2 separate regions of the Homo sapiens genome follow, and region 2 is linked to region 1. Evidence: fine-mapped expression QTL. A gene starts in region 1. The other region holds a variant in brackets. All regions are shown on one strand. Distances are between the middles of the regions. Region 1 holds the start of LINC03053 (long intergenic non-protein coding RNA 3053). Region 2 has its middle 14 kb from the start of MIR1587.

Region 1 (8,321 bases):
AATTCTGGAAACAACCCCTACAAAGTACGAAGGGCATCAAGACAGGTTGGAGCAATAACTTTTCCAAGAATTGACGACCCCCCCACCCCGAGTCTTGCCAATCCTGGACCCAGGAAAGAGGATGGGGCGGGAGGGGTCTTAATCTGCCGCTCTACAGGCTTCCTGCATAGGCAACCACCCAAAGTCAGTCCCAGCCCGCGCGCAGGGCTCCCTCCTACCCTACAACAGCCCCGAGGGGCCTCAAGTCCCACTGCCTGGAACCCCACAAGCCACCCCCGCCCCCGCGCCATTTCCAGTCCTCTGGGCGAGGGGGGTCAATGTCGTTCAAGTAATTTCTCTGCGAACACAAGATGGCAGCCTTAAATAAATGCAACCCTGCGCAGCTTTTAATCTTACACATCATTAAATTCCTAATTTACACATTATGTTTTCGTGGGCCAACCCATAACTCATTAGTGTTGAACTCACGAGGTATAAAGACCAACGCACGACGGGCGCCGGGGCGCCGTCACCTGCCTGGGTTAACAGTTCCTGCCGCGGGGGCAGGGAGAAAGGCGCTAGAGGGGCGCGGGGTGCCGGCGGGGCCGAGCCCGGGGCGCGGGCGAGCCCTGGGTGCCAGGCCCTGCGCCGCACGCCACTCTCGCAGCGCTGCCGCCGGGAAAGTGCCGGCGCTGGCTCTCCCTCCCCTCCCGGGAATAGCGGGCGCAGGCACGCACATCCACACACATCCACACACACACACACACCGCACACTCACACACCCGGGTGGCCGCGCGGGGCTCCGAGCCGCGCAGGCCTCCTTGGCAGACATCTTCCTGTGGGAGGATTTCAAACGAGCCGTGAAAGCCAGAAACTACACGGGTTACAAACTCCGGAATCCCTGGCCGGCCTCGGCCTCCCTCCCCACCTCCGGCCCGGCCCCCTCCGTTCGGCCCGTGGCCAGGAGCCCCACCAAAGGACAAAGCTCACACGCCGAAAGCGCGGGGAGATCCGGGGGCGCAGAGACTGCCCCGACGGCCCTTCTACCTTCTGACCCTGGGACCCACGGCCAAGTGCCGCGCAGCCGAGGTCGGCCTTGCTGATCTGTGGTGGCCCAGGGCGACCCGAAGCGCACCGGCTTCAGGGTGCGCCCTGGCCAGGGCGTGGGGTGGAGGGTCACATAAGCCACCTGGCATCCGAGGGTGGCCGCCTCGCCCCCTCAACGCCGCTCTCCAGGGAAGGAGGCGGCGGGGTCACCAGGGCGCAGCTGACAGCCCCAGGCCCCGGCCAGGGCGCACCCTAAAGAAGAGGGAGGCTGCTGCCTGAACTGGCCTGGGGGCAGAGGGAAGTGGGCCCCGCGCTGTGGAAGGCCCCAGGCTGGAGCGCCGGGGACAGCTGTCCAAGCGGCGAGGGCTAGGAGTGGCCTCGCCTAGCGCTGAGCCGGCCAGGCCCTGGAGGTGCTCCGCGCCTTCTCGGCCAAAAGCCAGCTCCGCGCCGCTGGCGGAGTGGGAGGGAGGCGGCCAGGCGAGCGCCCCGCCTTCGTCGCCCGCGGTCACAGGGGCAATTACACTCCTCGCTGCAGACGGTTACCAGCTCGCCCGCGCATCCCTCTCTCGGCTCCCCTCTCCTCCCCTCTCCTCTCCTCCCCTCCCCTCCTCCGCGGAACTGCTGGCTCCATATTAGCGAGGGTGCCCTGGCAGCGCGACCGAGGCCAACTACCCCTGGGGACCCTCCCGAGGCTCCCCGCACCCTGCACACCCTCAAGATCGCCAAGGCGAGCCCACCGCACCCCACAGCGCGTCCCAAGGGCACCACAGCCGAGGAAGCGACTTTTGCGGTAGCGAAAGGGTGGCAGTACCCAGCTCCACGCGCTGCAAGACTCTAGCAGCCGCGCTTCACCCCAAAACTCTGCCCCTAGCCAGCACAGCTCCCCTAGCGCCCCAAATCCCAGGTGTGCCTGTTTCCCTGGAGTCCCGCCGGCGTGCTTTGCTATTCGCAGCTCGACGCCTAGACCTCCTGACTGCAACCTCCGAGGCCTTTGCGCTCCCAGGCGTCCTTTGCTGCAAGCAAACAGGCCCCCAACCGCCCCCTATGGTTTGTACTCTTCTGGAAGGTGTCTTTGGCGCTGTGAATGCAAACTCAGGCTTTGGATTAAGGGCTTCATTTTCAACTAACTGTGTGATTTGAGGCCAGTTTCTTAACCTCAGTTTCTTTATCTACAAAATGGGAGGGATATTCGTATAAGTGTGGCTACGAGGTTTAAAGAAGATATAGTTATATGTCAAATGCTTAGCACAAAGTCCTGGTGGTTAGCATTATTATTACCATATGGCCAGAACTGTGAGGACATTAAAAGTGAAGTAGGCTTTTTCCCACCAGGGGTAAGCCTCGCGGAGTCCTAGGACACATCCCACAAACCGAGGTGAACCTAAGCCACCGGCTACGTCTGAAGGGAGGACAGACGAGACGAGGGGCAGCCAACTGAGCGAATCACTCTGCCTTCCGCCTTTGCAAATGAATAGGGCTCTGTCTACAGCTTCCGCCATTCCTACGCCAGATCTGCAACGCCTAAGGCTTAAACTTGGCGCGGCGGTAAATTTAGCCCGAAGGCAGCGGCTCCTAAGGGGCGGGGATGTCTCCTTGGAAGAAGGAAAGGGAACAGGGTAAGAAAATGGAGTTGCCTCTAGGAAGAAGAATCAGGCAGAGGAAACATTCAGGGCCGCTGGCGGACCACTGACAAAAAGAAATCGGACGCAAAAGAAACCTCCCCAGAAGAAACTGGGCCACCGTGGGAGCCGTGCGAGACAGACTTCCCATCTGGGAAGGGCTGCCTACGGGTAATTGGGTTTGCTCGAGTTGCCTCTATAATTAATAAGTGATTTGACTTGGAGATTGGAAATAGTCATGAAAGGAAGCCGCGGGCGTAGGGGTGTGAGGCCCAGGAGCCTCCATCCGAAATCCAAAGACCGCGGAGGAGGACGGTTTAAGGAACAGGACGAATGTGATAATATTGGCATCTAACCTTCTAGTGTTTGAGTAATTCGTTGCTTAGCTACTTTGGATAGGCCATTATTTTGCAAACTGGAAACATTTGCAAGTGGTGATATTTTGCTCTTGCCTGACGCAGGGGCTGCAAACCTACGCCGGCTCTGCTGAACTCTTCGAAATATATATGCATAAATTGTTCCTAATGAGACCATCTGTTTTTTATGGCCCCTCTGGAAGCAGGAGGAACCCGAAGCCTGCTCCGTCTTGCAGAAATCTGTGGCCAGGCAGGCCTGGGAAATAAATAGGGGAGATTAGAACGGTGTGCGTGATTTAACAATACGCAGAACGGCAAGTTCGGTGGTCGAGATGTGTGCCTCGATTCCCAGGGGTGCGGGTCATTTAGGGTGACTCCAGACATGGGGGTTCCTCCTAGGAGGCCCAGGGACTTTGCGGAGTTCCACGGCACACACGAACCTCGTTTTTCCATATCTGGAACATCGCCAGAGCCACAACGCGAAACCACGAGCCTGTAGCTGCTCTGGGGACCCAAAACAAGCACCCAGGTTGTAGGTGGTCCCCGACGTCGCCCACTATCTAGGGCCTCCTTCTACGGTGGTGAAGGGAGCTGAACCTGGGCCACAGAGGCAGAGAACGAGCATCACTCCACCCCATACCCGGGTCAGAGCACAGAGCTCATTCCGGGCCTATCCCAAAGACTGAGCTGCTCCGCGAGCGTCTGGCAGGCCCAGCGCCCCGGCCTGAGACCGCACTGAGGGTGGCAGGGCAAACACTTTTCACATTACCGCGTGGCTGTTAATTGGGGCAGTGCAAAAGACGCCGCGACTACCCCTTTGCGGCGGCGGGGGAGGGGGGAGCGGGTCAGGAGTGGGCAGTGGGGGCTGCTTATAATAGAAGGACTGCCCTGGGGAGCCTCAGATATCGGTAACCCCCATGATTAATTCATAACTCTCCACTGCGCCTGGCACCGTCTCGGGTCTTTAATCGGTTCTGAATGTCAGCGAGGCTTCCCCGACAGCCTGAGCACTGCTTTTTCAATGTGTTGAAAGTCGCTGCGCGCACACCAGGAGACAAAGTTGCCATCTGCTCCGGGGACCAAGGCAACTGGGCGCTGGGAGGGGCCTTCCTCCCGCGGCTCCCGCTGCCCCGGGCGGCCTCCTCTTCCCGGCCTGCCCCAAAGCCAACACTGTCACCCGGAACGTCCCCGCCCCCCGCCCCGGGTGCATGCATGGTGGAAACTCCGGCTTGCAGCGAAACAGAGCGCTGCGCGCGGGCGCGCAGGGAGCCTCGCGGTCACCCAGACCGAGACCTATGCTAATGAGATTATAGGCCCGGGTTGTTTGTGTGCGCGGACGTCAAAGGGGGGGCGCAGATAAAGTGTGGAAACCGGGATGACTTGGAGGGGGGAGGGGCAGGAAGCCCCAGGAGAACAAAGCTCCTGGCCGTCGGCCTCCAAAGAGTCGCAGAAGTGACCGCCACTGGCTCGTGCACAGGCGGAAGCGGGGGAGGGCGGGGGACGCCAGGCCTAAAGCGCCTCGTGGGTTTAGAGAACTCAGAGAGGGCACCGGGTGGGGGTGGGAAGAAGACTCAACCCGTAGCTAAATGTTTGGCCTTTGGCTATTTTTTAAGGAAACGAATCTCAGGGAGGTCGGGGCGCGGGGGATGGGGGCATCATCGCGCCTCGGAGATGGGAAGCGAGTTCCCCTCCGCTTTCTGGGAAAAGCCTTGTCTCCCTTCTTTCCCCTCCCCCCATCCTGCTGAGGGTTTGCGTTGACCCATCTCTCCGCTCGGGACCGGCAGGAGGACGGAGCCGCAGGGGCTGACCGCGGCCCAGAGGCTGCCCAGGGGTCGCGCTGCTGCCGGCCTGCGCTTCCGCACTCCCGGGTTCGGTGCGTCGCCTCTCGCGGCAGCGCCTCGCTTCTTCCAGACTGTAATTCCACACTCCCGCAAGCGCTGGGGCTGCGGAATCGTTTGAGGGAGTTGGAACTGCATCAGATGAGCACGCCGGGAGGTGAGATCGGGTAGGAAATAGCCGAAACTTTGAGTTGTGCGCCACCCCACCGCCCCCAACACACACACACAGGCACACACACACACACACACACACACACACACACATTTACCCTCCCCCTTCCCAGCCGCAACCTCCGCCACCCTCTCGATTCTTCAAGGTTTGCAGCCCAGTCCTGTCATATGGTTTTGTTTCTGTGCTGCTGTTTTTTTTCAGACACGAAAATTGGACACGTGGAGAATTAGCCCTGCTGGAGAAGCGCTGGGTGCAGACTCAAACAATGGTTTCCAGCGCCGAAGCTGAGGCATCACCTTCCCCACCTCCACCCTCAAATGGCAGCTGCCTCTATATACAGCGGGCACACCCCTTCACTACCCACCCCCTCCCCCAAAGCCTGGTTAGGGACCTATGTGGGCTGCACGCTCTGGAGCCCCTTGCCCGGACACAAACCCTAGGTGGGCCTGGGCTGCCCGCTGAGTAGCTCATTGCGCCTGGGATCCCCTGGGATTTAGAAGTATAGGGCTCTCTATTTTTCCCTAGGAAGGTCCTGTCTCAAAGATGCCACCCCCAAAAATTAATGTGTAAAAACCCAACCAAGCTCCAGTCTCTGTGTCCTTTGGCAAATCTATCTTTCCTAGGGCATACTTTCCTAAGCTGCTGGGACCTTGCCCCCCATCTGATGAGCCATACGCAGGTGGTCTGGCCTCTTCAGAGCAGCTTCCTTTAGTTATTGTCTTCTCCAGAGGCCCCATCCTCCACGGCAGCCCTAATCTTAGCCCCCCAGCCTCTCTGAGCCCCCATCCCACCCCCACACTGCGCTGAGCTGGCAGCAGCCACAGCTCCCCCAGGCAGTTCCTCTCTCACTGCGCGGCCTGTGCATCTCGCTGGGGCACACACTCCGCACAGAAGCTCCCTCGCCTCCTGGAGCTGGTTTCCTCTTACAGGCTCCCCTTAGAGCTGCTGGTGCTGTGACAACGCCTGCATCTCTGTGTCTCCCTGCAGCGCTGCGAGCTGTGAATCTGCCTTCTCTTCCCTTCCTGCAAAGGTCAAGCTGCCTCCTTCTCTCGCAGGGCCGCAGTTCAGTTCTGGCCTGCAGAGCTTCTACACTGCAACTTGAATATGGGAATGGGGTGGGCATCGTGCAAGGGAGCAGTCACACTCAAGCCAGGAGGCAGGGACAAAAGGGTGTGCGATTCAGGGAGGGAAACACTGAGGACAACCCTCAGAAAGCAGTGCAGGATTTGCAGCTAAAGACTCAAAAGAGGGAGAGAAAACGAGGAAAAGGCTGTTACTAGGTCGTGAGTCCTGAAGTGTAGGCCTTTCTCCTCCCACCCCGTGGGTTGCCCTAGGGGAAGGCCAGAAGAGGCCTCAGGTGTCTGCACTGTGTCCTGTGCAGTTCCTAGGGCCATGCACTTCCGGTGAGGCTGCACTTTACTCCAAGCAGGAGTCAGAAGCATGGAATTCAGTGGCCGCAGGAGCTCAAGTCGGCTGCAGCCCTTTCAAAGAGGGACCCCGAAGAGGCCTTTCTGCCACCCCAGCCCCAGAGAGGCTATGAGGCTCTACAAGCAGCAGAGAGAATGATACGGAGAAAAATGAGAGGAAACGCTATTAAACTTGCTTCCTCTAAAGAGCGCTACCCACCGTTTTCTCTGAACTGTACCTAAAAAGTCAGGAGAGAACTCGTTAACTTTTGTTTGGTTTAACATTGCCAGCTTCAAGTCAACCGTAGGCCCCCCGAAGGTTTTGTAAAATATTTAATCTAGCTCAGACAATTTCCTGCAGTCCCTAACCAGACCACCCCACTTACTGAGCCGCTGCCAAAAAGGATGCTTGACTGCAGACTGGCAACCAGAGGCCTTCCAGTCGCCTGGCTGGCCTTGACCTCCACTCGAGGCGCCAGGAAAGACCCTTCCCGGAATCCCGAGAGACCAAGACCTGGGTAATCCTGGAGGTCTAAACCCGTGAGGAAGCCCAAGAAATGGAGTTAAAGACCCTTTTCGCACAACCGATTGTTGTCTGTGTGACCTTCTGCGGCCCTTGCCCTCTCTGAACCCTCTAAAATGGGCATGAGGATGTCTCACCTTCCTCTGGGTGTTATGCATTTTGAAGCGTGGGCACTATGGGAGAGGCTGACGCTCTGTGTTCCCCAGCGCCCTCCACTCCCACCCCTTCACTGTTTTCTTCGACATTATCTCCCTAGAGAACACAGCAAGCAGGAGCGGGATCCTTCGACTCGGCTGACTCTCAACTCCTTCCAAACGTGAGGCTGACGGGGAGAACTCCTGCTCTGCCCAGTTTCCATTCCCGCCTCCAGAATAACGAGCCGAAAACATGTGTACTGTAAATAAAGCCTGTCTAAATAAAGCACTCGGGTAAAGGCTACCGAGAAAACACTCCGCATCGCTCTGTGCTCAGAGCGTGAGTCAGCTTCCCAGCCCCGGGGGAACAATGGGGACCTTGCCAAGGGTCCCCTTCTGTCGACCCCTGACGGCCCCCAGGCCCGTTTGGGTGGCGGGAGTGCCGGCACCCTGGGACCTTCGGGCCCGAGGTTCGGGAGGGCTAAGGGCGCTCCAGGCGACCAGGGTTGGGGTCCAGCCCCAGGATTAGCGCGGCCAGGAATCCCTCTGCCCGCAGCTGCCGCGGAGGGGTTGAGGGTTAAACAGACACCGGGCAGAGGAGCGAGCCTGCCGGCTGCGGCCGGCGCGGCGCGGCGCGGGGAGAGGACGGGAGGGAAGAGGGCGCACGCTACCTAGCCTCCCGACGAGAAGACGTCTCCTCCCCACGTCAGGCCGGGCTCTCGCCCACTCGGCTGGCCGCCTCTGCTCCCTGGCCTCTCAAGTCTCAGCGGAAAGAAACGTAGCGGCTGCCAAAAGCACCCCACTCCTTTTATTGTCCCCATAAGCCTATACACGTACACTAGCCACCCCCCCAACACACACACACAACACGCACACGTGTGCGGGAGACTCGAGGATGCCCTGCCTCCATCGCTCACAGAGTGAGTACCAAGGCCGAGCGAAACGGCACCCCTTTGGTGGAAGACACAGTGTTGGGACCAGTGGTGGCCTCCGCGCTACGTCTTCTATCGCAACCTCTGGGTTTCCTTTGCAGAACTGCATACCCCAGAGCAGAGGCCATGTGGAGACCTGCGGCTTGGTCCCGACTGGTGCAGTGGCCTCTGCTCTGGTGTGGGCTGGCGGTTTCCCCGCGCCCGGTGACCTTAAGGGGGTTTCCGGAGTCGCGCAGCCAGCCCTTCCTCCCAGCTTCTCCGGCCAAGGCCGCTCTCGGCCGCCCAGCCTGGTCGGGCTCGGCTAGTCGGCTCCTC
Region 2 (8,321 bases), 160 kb before region 1:
ATATGCACACACAGACACACACACACACACACACTCCCCTCCATGAGAGACATGGGACAGCAATTCCTTTGCAAAAGGTGGGGTGATGATGAAGAAGGAGAGAGGGATAAGAAGGGTTACTCAGCTGTCACATGGGGAGTTCAAAATGGTTTGGCTAAGGACTTACCAAGTTTTGGAGGGCATGCCCTGCACATGTTGTAAATTAGACACTAGAAGATGGGAAATCTGTCAAGGAAATAAATCCCGACCCCTACCTCGGTGAAGCTCCTGGTCTAATTTTCGATGGAAAATAAATAGTGCAACTCCGAAGTTGGAGATAATATAATGCCACCAGGACCTGGACACAGAGAGCTGCCTGTGTCAGGACTGACAGAGTGTGACAGGTTAATCCAGAGGGGCTTACCAGAGGAAGTCAGGAATCTGAAGGAGAGAAGCGCCCGGAATTAACCACGAGACAGAGGAAGCGCCCCACCATCCTAATAAGGATAGTGTCTTAACATGTTCTTCTGTTTGGTGCCGTTTCAGAGGGCCTTGTTAGCTGCAGTGTTCCCCTAAATCTCGGGGAAATGTTATTTCCTCCTCCAAAACACTAACTTATTTTTAAAATAATAAGGAAACTCCCAGTGATAAAGCAATCTATCTCTGTTACTAAAGTAAGTGTAGGAAGGTCCCTGCCAATGTTATCCCGTAGAGGTCAGGGTTAGTGGTAACGAACAGGGTGTGCTCTGAGGATGACGTCACCTGTTCCATCAATCACTTGGGAAGAAAACGTCTGGAAGTGGAAAGTGGCCCTACTGGTGTTCAGAAAGTGGACCTTAGCCAACTGAGAGAGAACATGGATCTAGATCTCTTGTGCCAGGACATCTTGAAGCTGGAATATATATATATATATATATATATTTTTAGACAGAGTCTTGCTCTGTTGCCCAGGCTGGAGTGCAGTGGCGTGATCTTGGCTCACTGCAACTTCCTCCTCCCAGGTTCAAGCGATTCTCCTGCCTCAGCCTCCCCAGTAGCTGGGATTACAGGCATGAGCCACTACTCCCAACTAATTTTTGTGTCTTTTTTTTTTTTTTTTACTAGAGATGGGGTTTTACCATGTTGGCCAGGCTGGTCTCGAACTCCTGACCTCAAGTGATCTGCCCACCTCGGCCTCCCAAAGTGCTGGGATCACAGGTGTGAGCCTTTAGGGGCACTCACCAGTGGTAGGGCTCAAAGTTAGCATCTGCTTGAGGAGAAGAGATGTCAGTTAGCCAGGAACTCGTAGCAGGAGGGACGTCAAACTGAAGATGAGTCAACTCTAAGTTGTGAGCCAAATGCTCCAGGTTCGTGTTTCTCTGTTTATTTTCTCTTTGTCCGCCTCCAAACTATTTATTAAAATGTGAGCTCCACGAAGGGCAAGGGCTTCATCTGTCTTGTTCACAGCTGTATCAGCAGCTAGAAATGTGCCTGGCACATGGCTCACTAAATATTTGGTGAACGGATGAATAACAAGACCTAATTGAATGCTCAGACCTTGGTTCAGCTGAGCTACTCAATAAATCTGGGAAGGCGACTACTACAAAACACAGAAGGCCTGATCAGGGGGTGGCAAAGAAACTCGAAGCACCTATGAAGCCGCTGTGACAGTCTCAGGGAGACCAGAGCGAGGAGCCCAGGGAAAAGGTGACTTCTCTAAAGTTTCAAGTGCCAGCCGTGTTTTCAGCCTGATATCGTTTGGATGTTTGTCCTCTCCAAATCTCATGTTGAAATGTGATCCCCACTGTTGGAGGTGGGGCCTGGTGGGAGGTGATTGGATCATGGGAATAGCCCCTCGTGAATGGTGTAGCGCCATCCCTTCAGTGATAAGTGAGTTCTCGCTCAGTTAGTTCATGCAAGATGTGGTTGCTTAGGCCAGGCAGGGTGGCTCACGCCTGTAATCCCAGCACTTTAGGAGGCCGAGGCGGGTGGATCACGATGTCAGGAGTTCGAGACTAGCCTGACCAACATGGTGAAACCCTGCCTCTACTAAAAATACAAAAATTAGCCGGGCATGGTGGCACGCGCCTGTAATCGCAGCTACTCAGGAGCCTGAGGCAGGAGAATCGCTTGAACCTGGGAGGTGGAGGTTGCAGTGAGCCGAGATCACGCTGCTGCACTCCAGCCTGGGCAACAGAGCAGGACTCCATCTAAAAAAAAAAAAAAATCTGGTTGTTTAAAAGTGTGTGGCTGCCTCCCCTCCCTCTCTCTTGCTCTCACTCTCAACATGTGAAACATTGGCTCCCCTTCGTCTTCCACCATGATTGTAAGCTCCCTGAGGCCCTCATCGGAAGCAGATGCCAGCACCATGCTTCCTGTACAACCTGCAGAATCAAGAGCCAATGAAACCTCTTTTCTTTATAAATTCCCCAATCTCAGGTATTTCTTTATACTGACACAAAAACAGCCCAATTCACAGCCTGTCTGCATTGACTCCACTTCTATCACCAGCCGCTGGGAGAGGTGGGTCCTGTTTTACTGAACAGTGTCCCTAACATGGCCGCCCTTCCTTGTATAGGCCCCAGAACCTTCCAGGGTTAAACAAAAGCAGGTTTCCAGGATGGAAAAGCTCCAGGCAGACATGAGACGCTAAACACCCAAACTTTCCTCCTGGAATTCCCCTTCCTCTTGCAGTTTGTACCTTGATACCAAAGGTCACCCCTAGGAGAAAACACCCTTCATGACTAGTCCTTCAAAGGACAGAGTCCTTTTCTTTGTTTCACCTTAGCAGAGTCGAGACAGGCAGATAAAAATGTCTTGCTTTGTTAAAGAATGAAGGAGGAGCAGAAACATAAGGGGCATAAAATCATGTTCATGAGTGAGGCACGTCTGGACACACAGGGGCAACTTTGATTCCAGACCTGCCTCCCGGAGTCAGATAAGGGAGCTGAAGTGCCAGCCAGTGGCCTCAGCTTTCTTAAGTCCTCCTACTCCAGCTTTGGACAAGCCAATGCCATCTTCCTCCAAGAGGCAGGCACCATCTCTTTTCCAGGGCCTGCGGGGAGCAGTTCCCCTCTCCTTCTGCCTCAAGGATGGCACCTCCCAGCTTCCCTAATCTCTCCCCCTTAGTGTGGGGGTGCAGCTAGTCTGTGGATGATTTGCAGGACAGTGGTGGTTGACAGCCAGCAAATAATAGAGCTCCCTGGGTCTGTGTTATCTAATCCACCTACCCCTGGAGCTTCCCTTAGCAACTCACTC[C/T]GGAAGCACCCCTCCCCCCACACCATCTGGAAGTGGTTTCAGAAAAACCTACTCATTATTGTTAAAAAGCAACATGTAGGCTTTTGCAAGATACAGTTACAACAGCAGCCCCTAGATTGTAAGTTCCCGGAAGGTAGGGATCTTTCCCTTGTTTGCTACTGTGTAACCATCACCTGGCACATAGTAGGAACTTGATAAATGACTTTCAAATAAATGCAGAATTAATAAACTCACAATCAAGGTCTTCCAATTATTTCTGCATAACAAATTACTCCAAAATTTAGCAGCTTAACAACGGTTTTATTATGCTCGAAGTTTCCATAAGTCAGGAATTTGGACGGGCCAAAGCATTGTGGATCTCTCTGCTCCACAATGTCTGGGGTCTCAGTTGAGAAGACTTGAAAAGAGCTGGGGGCTGGAATCATCCAGAAGCTTCTTCATTCACACATCTGGTACTTAGGCTGAAATGACTTGGAGACTGGGCTCAGTTGGGACTATGGATCTCTGCACCTATGTGTTGTCCCTTCATATTAATTGGGCCTCCTCTCAGCATGGCCGGCTGAGGGTAGTCAGAGTTCTTACATGACAGCTATTCAGGGCTTCAGGGCAGAAGCTGTGTGGCCTTTTATGACCTAGCCCTTTCATTCTCTTAGTTGAAGCTGTCACCAGCGTATCCAGATTCAAGGAGAGAAGGACCCCGCTTCTCATTGGAAGGAGTGTCAGGAAACTTTGGGGTCATGTTTTTGAACCACCCCAAAGGGTGAAAGATTAGAAAGCTCTAATGATGTTACATTCATTCCTTCAACAGAATTTACGTTGAGCATCTACCACATGTTAAGCTCTGGGTTGAGTGATGTGCAGGGATTTAGTGGTGAACAAAATAGACATTGTCTCTGCCCTCATTAAACAAATAGATACACAAACAAATGCATAATTACATATCATGATGAGTGCTATTAAGCTGGGGGTGGGGAGTGCCCTGAGAAAGAACAGGGAGACTTAATTTAGATTGCAAATGTCTTGCATACAAGGTTTTGTGTGCAAGCAGTTTCTTTGGGAGGTGATTCCAGGAAGCATCAGTAGGGCAATGAGGACATGGAGAGAGAGCCAGGGGGGCAGTCAGAGGCCGTATTGATAAGTAGGCTCCCACCCATTTGTCCGCATTTGTTGGGGCAAATGGGGCTGGGTCCTGCAGGATACCCCTGGTTGACAGTGTGGAACACACCTCAGATCATCCCTCCTGAAGGATGAGGAGGCTGGAGCATTTACTTACGGAATCCTAACAGTCAGAGTTGAGGGTGTTAGGGAGGGCTGCCCACTCACGCAGCCAAAGAGAGCCTCAGGCAAAGGACACCAAGTGCTGGCAGAAGCAGCCAAGAGAATGGGGAAGGAGCCTGCCCAGGGGTCAGGGAAGCCCTCCATGAACAAGTGATCTTCTTAAAGAAGGAGTTCAAGGGTCAAGAAGTTAGGATTTCTAGATGGTTCATAGATTTTTCTGTGTTATATGTGGATTTTCACCAAATGCAACCCTAATGCCAGCACTTAGCACAGTGCCTTAGATAGTAATATGGTTTTGGTTTTCTTCCTGTGTAATGATTGTCCCCACTGACCACCCTGCCCCCACCTGCCCCTCTCCTTTGTGACTAATGGAAAACATTGGCAAAATTGCCCACAGGCAGGGAGGCAGGTAGGCAAGGTGGGGAGAGAGTTTTCCCTTTGTGTGAGTTAACTGCCCGGAGTTGCGGGCGTCACACCCCACCACTCTGACCTCAGCTGAGCTTAGTGAGGCAGAGAGGCTAGCCTAGCTTAAGCTGTCACTAAACAATTCTTGGGGGAGATCTTTCATGCCTAGTCAGTTCCTCAGGAGGGGAGTCTGTGTAGAGAAATCCAGTGAGCAGTACCCTTGTTGAGGGATGGTCACATTAGCCAGACACATGGCTCTCTGGTCCCGGCAACCTGAGAGAGATTCCCAGAGACCCCTCGCAGTTCCTCAGCACAAGCTTTGCAACAAGCTTTGCAACACCAGACTCCACGGAACAGCAGGTCTGCGGTGAACTGGAAGAGACGCTACGAAAACACTAATCAGCCACCGCAACTGGGGGGAAAAAAATCAGTGAGCAACTGGAAAAAAAGCATTTTTACAAAGACAGTATAATACTCTTTCATTTTCAAATAGCTAAATAGAATTTCTGTATAATTTTCAAACAGTGTTTGTCTTAATGACTCTTTGAAAGCCTCCTTTTTCCAATTTGACTGCTACTGAATACCAAGTAGATGCCATGCCCTGGGTGAAGCATTTTTTGTAAGGTAAAAATCATAATAATGACTGCCTGTGTAGTGACTTTCAGCGCTTGACACAGTGCGTAGCTAAAGCAGGAACATGGTCCCTAGCCACTTGTCGACATATCTCTTTTTTGTGCACTCTCCTGCCTTTGGATTCTCAGCTGCTCTCCCACCCATCCCCAGGGCTGGCCTAAGTCACCGTCACCCTGAGGACAGCAAAACAGTATGTGGGGGAGGGGCGGGAGAGGGAGAGGAGGGGGAAGAGAGAAAAAGGGAAGGGGAGAAAGGAGAGGAGACAGAAAAGGGCAGGGGAGAGGGGGGAAGAAAAAAGGGAGAGAATGGAGAAGGGGAACAAAATGGAAAGGGGGGAAGAGGAGGGTGGGGAAGGAGAGGAGAAGGGGAGAGGGATGGAAAAGCAGGCAGAGGAGAAGGGAAAAGAGGAAAGGAGAGAAGGGGGAAAGAGAGAAGAGGAAGGGAGGGGAGGGGAGAGAATTCTTCTGGGATGGAAAAGGCAGGAAGTGAAATTCCTAACCCAGTGATAAATAGAATCCCAGCTGCACCAAGAACAGAGCAGTGGTAAAATCATTCAAACTCTGAATTCCTGACAGTGGAAAATAAACTCATCTTTGCTGGTGAATGGAAATTTAGGGAAGGCAACCGGGTGTGCTCTGGATTCCACAGCCCCATCCCTGGTAGAGGGCACAGAAGCATTGGAGGGTTGAGAAAGGGCAACTGGCAGCCTTTGGGCCAAGTTGCTTTAAGTCCAGAGAGGCTGAGAAAAGCAGCTCAATGCTGCAGAAGAGAAGGTGGAAGTTGGAAGTAAGAAAATGAAAGAGCCAGGTGGCCCATGGTGGAGAGGTGCCCAGAGCTGGCGACAGAACCCAAGGAACCCTGGTTCCTGGGGTGACCTTGAGAAAAGACCCGGCCAGTCTTAGACAAGGTGATGAAAGGAAGGAAGAAGGCTACTGAGCTGAAGAGAACAAAAATATTTCCCCAACCCCATCCCGCTGGACAGTGAAGCATCTTCAGGGCCCCTAGCCTGGGTGCCGGACAAAAGACTTGGAGGTACTGGAATATTGGGTCTGTGCCCCAGCCCTATCCGTGCCCAGTGTTGGGCACCCCCAGAGGCTAAGCTTGGCCAAAAGCTCCTCAGGCTTCCTCATCCCACTTGTTCATGGGATGGTTCCACCCATATGAAGAGTAAGGCCTGGGTGGTGCCTCTCCTCCTGACTCCAGCCTCCTTCCCCGGCCCCAGTCCCATCCATACAGGGGTGCTGGCCTGGCCCCCTCTGGTGGGAGGACAGATAAGCAAAGGGGTGGTGGGGACACTCTAGATGCTTCACCCACATCCCCTCGGGCTCCTTCCCCCACCCCATATAGCTTCCCCTCTCCTAATTCCCACAGCCTGTGCCTGGGACTCTTTGCAGGCCCGCCCGGGGCACATCCCCCTCAGAGCCAGAAGTACCCAGGAGTTTCAATCCCCACACTCACGGTAGCTCCTAGCTGGTGCAAGGGAGCATGCAGGTACAGTGCTCTTGCCTGGAGTCAGGACAGGCTCTGAGTTGACACTTGCCCTCCAGAGCTCCTCCTTTGGGAGGTCATGAGGTCATGAGGATGGAGCCCTCATGAAGGGGGTCAGTGCCCTTATAAAAAGCGACCCCAGAGAGCTCTCTCTCCCTGTCTCTGCCATGTGAGGGCACAAGGAAAAGTTGGCAATCTACAGCCCAGAAGAGGGCCCTCCCCCAAACCCGACCGTGCTGGTACCCTGATCTCGGCCTCTCAGCCTCCAGAACCATGAGAAGTACGTGTCTGTGGTTTATCAGCCCCCCCGCGTGTGGTACCGTGTTACAGCAGCCTGGATGGACTAAGACCCTTCTGCAGAGGGACTTTGTCTGAAACTGGCTTCCTCCCCTTCTTGGTCCTGCCCTTCCATACCCTTCCGTGTTTCTTGGGAGCACTTCCTTAATAAATTGCTTCCACACGAATCCGCGTCTCAGAAGCTGCTTCTGAGAAAACCGAAGTGATGGGGCCCCTGGGCTGCACAGTAATAACAGTTGTTACAGACGGCACCTCCTCCAACCCTCAGAACCAGACGGCCACAATGGTATTGACTGCATTGCACAGAGGAGGAAACGGAAACCCAGAGAGCAGAAGGGACTTGCCCAGGATGGTGGAGTTGGTGAGCAGAGCAGCCTACATTAAACCCAGCTCCAAAGCCAGCCCTGGGTCTTTGATGCCCCACAGAAAATACATGGGAGGAGCCCTGCAGCTCCTGAAAGGAGCTAACATCTCCCAAGCCCCACTTCCAGGGGCAATCTGGGGCCAGCCAGGTACTTAGATGGACAGATGACCAAGGAGAGACCACTCAAGCCCTCAGTTTGAGAATGCATTCCTCTGCGTTCACAGGCTTACCTGGAGCCAGTTCCCCAAAGCCCCACTGGACTTTTTAAGCCCCCAGAGGCCTTCAGACAGGAACCCACTGAGTCTTCAAACCCCCAATCTCCATGGGGTTAAAACAATCCCCAAAAGGCAGGACTTACTAGGAGTCGTTCAGAAACTGGCAAAAGCACCCTCTGAATAAATGTTCAGGGTTCCATCCGGAGACGCCCACGGTGACTGATGAGTCATCAGATAGCCAGCTGTCGCCACAGAGTGCTATATATAGAAGCTGGAGGGGTGCCTGGTACCTAAAGAAAGGGGAGGAGCACACACCTAGTAGGTGGGGTCTCAGCTGGGAGGCAGGCCTAGAGCACCTGGAAACTGCACCCTCAGCTCCCTCTGCCCCCCCAGCAAAACAGAATCTGGGTCAGCAATTCCCCGGC

The links.
Region 2: its variant is fine-mapped to the expression of LINC03053 in whole blood (TOPMed, PIP above 0.99).

Annotation. Positions count from the first base shown.
Region 1 is chrX:40,004,806-40,013,126 of GRCh38, forward strand. LINC03053 (long intergenic non-protein coding RNA 3053) reads left to right here and starts at 4,445. Exons shown (of 2, transcript XR_007068218.1): 1 at 4,445-4,996; 2 at 5,213-7,389. RefSeq lists enhancers at 1,429-2,365, 3,585-4,212, 7,236-7,959 and a silencer at 7,691-7,740.
Region 2 is chrX:39,847,725-39,856,045 of GRCh38, forward strand. No RefSeq gene overlaps it. Among named protein-coding and RNA genes, the nearest start is that of MIR1587, 14 kb to the left of the region's middle. RefSeq lists enhancers at 5,591-5,885, 7,634-7,753, 8,024-8,103. The variant C/T (reference allele first, on the strand shown) is at 3,217.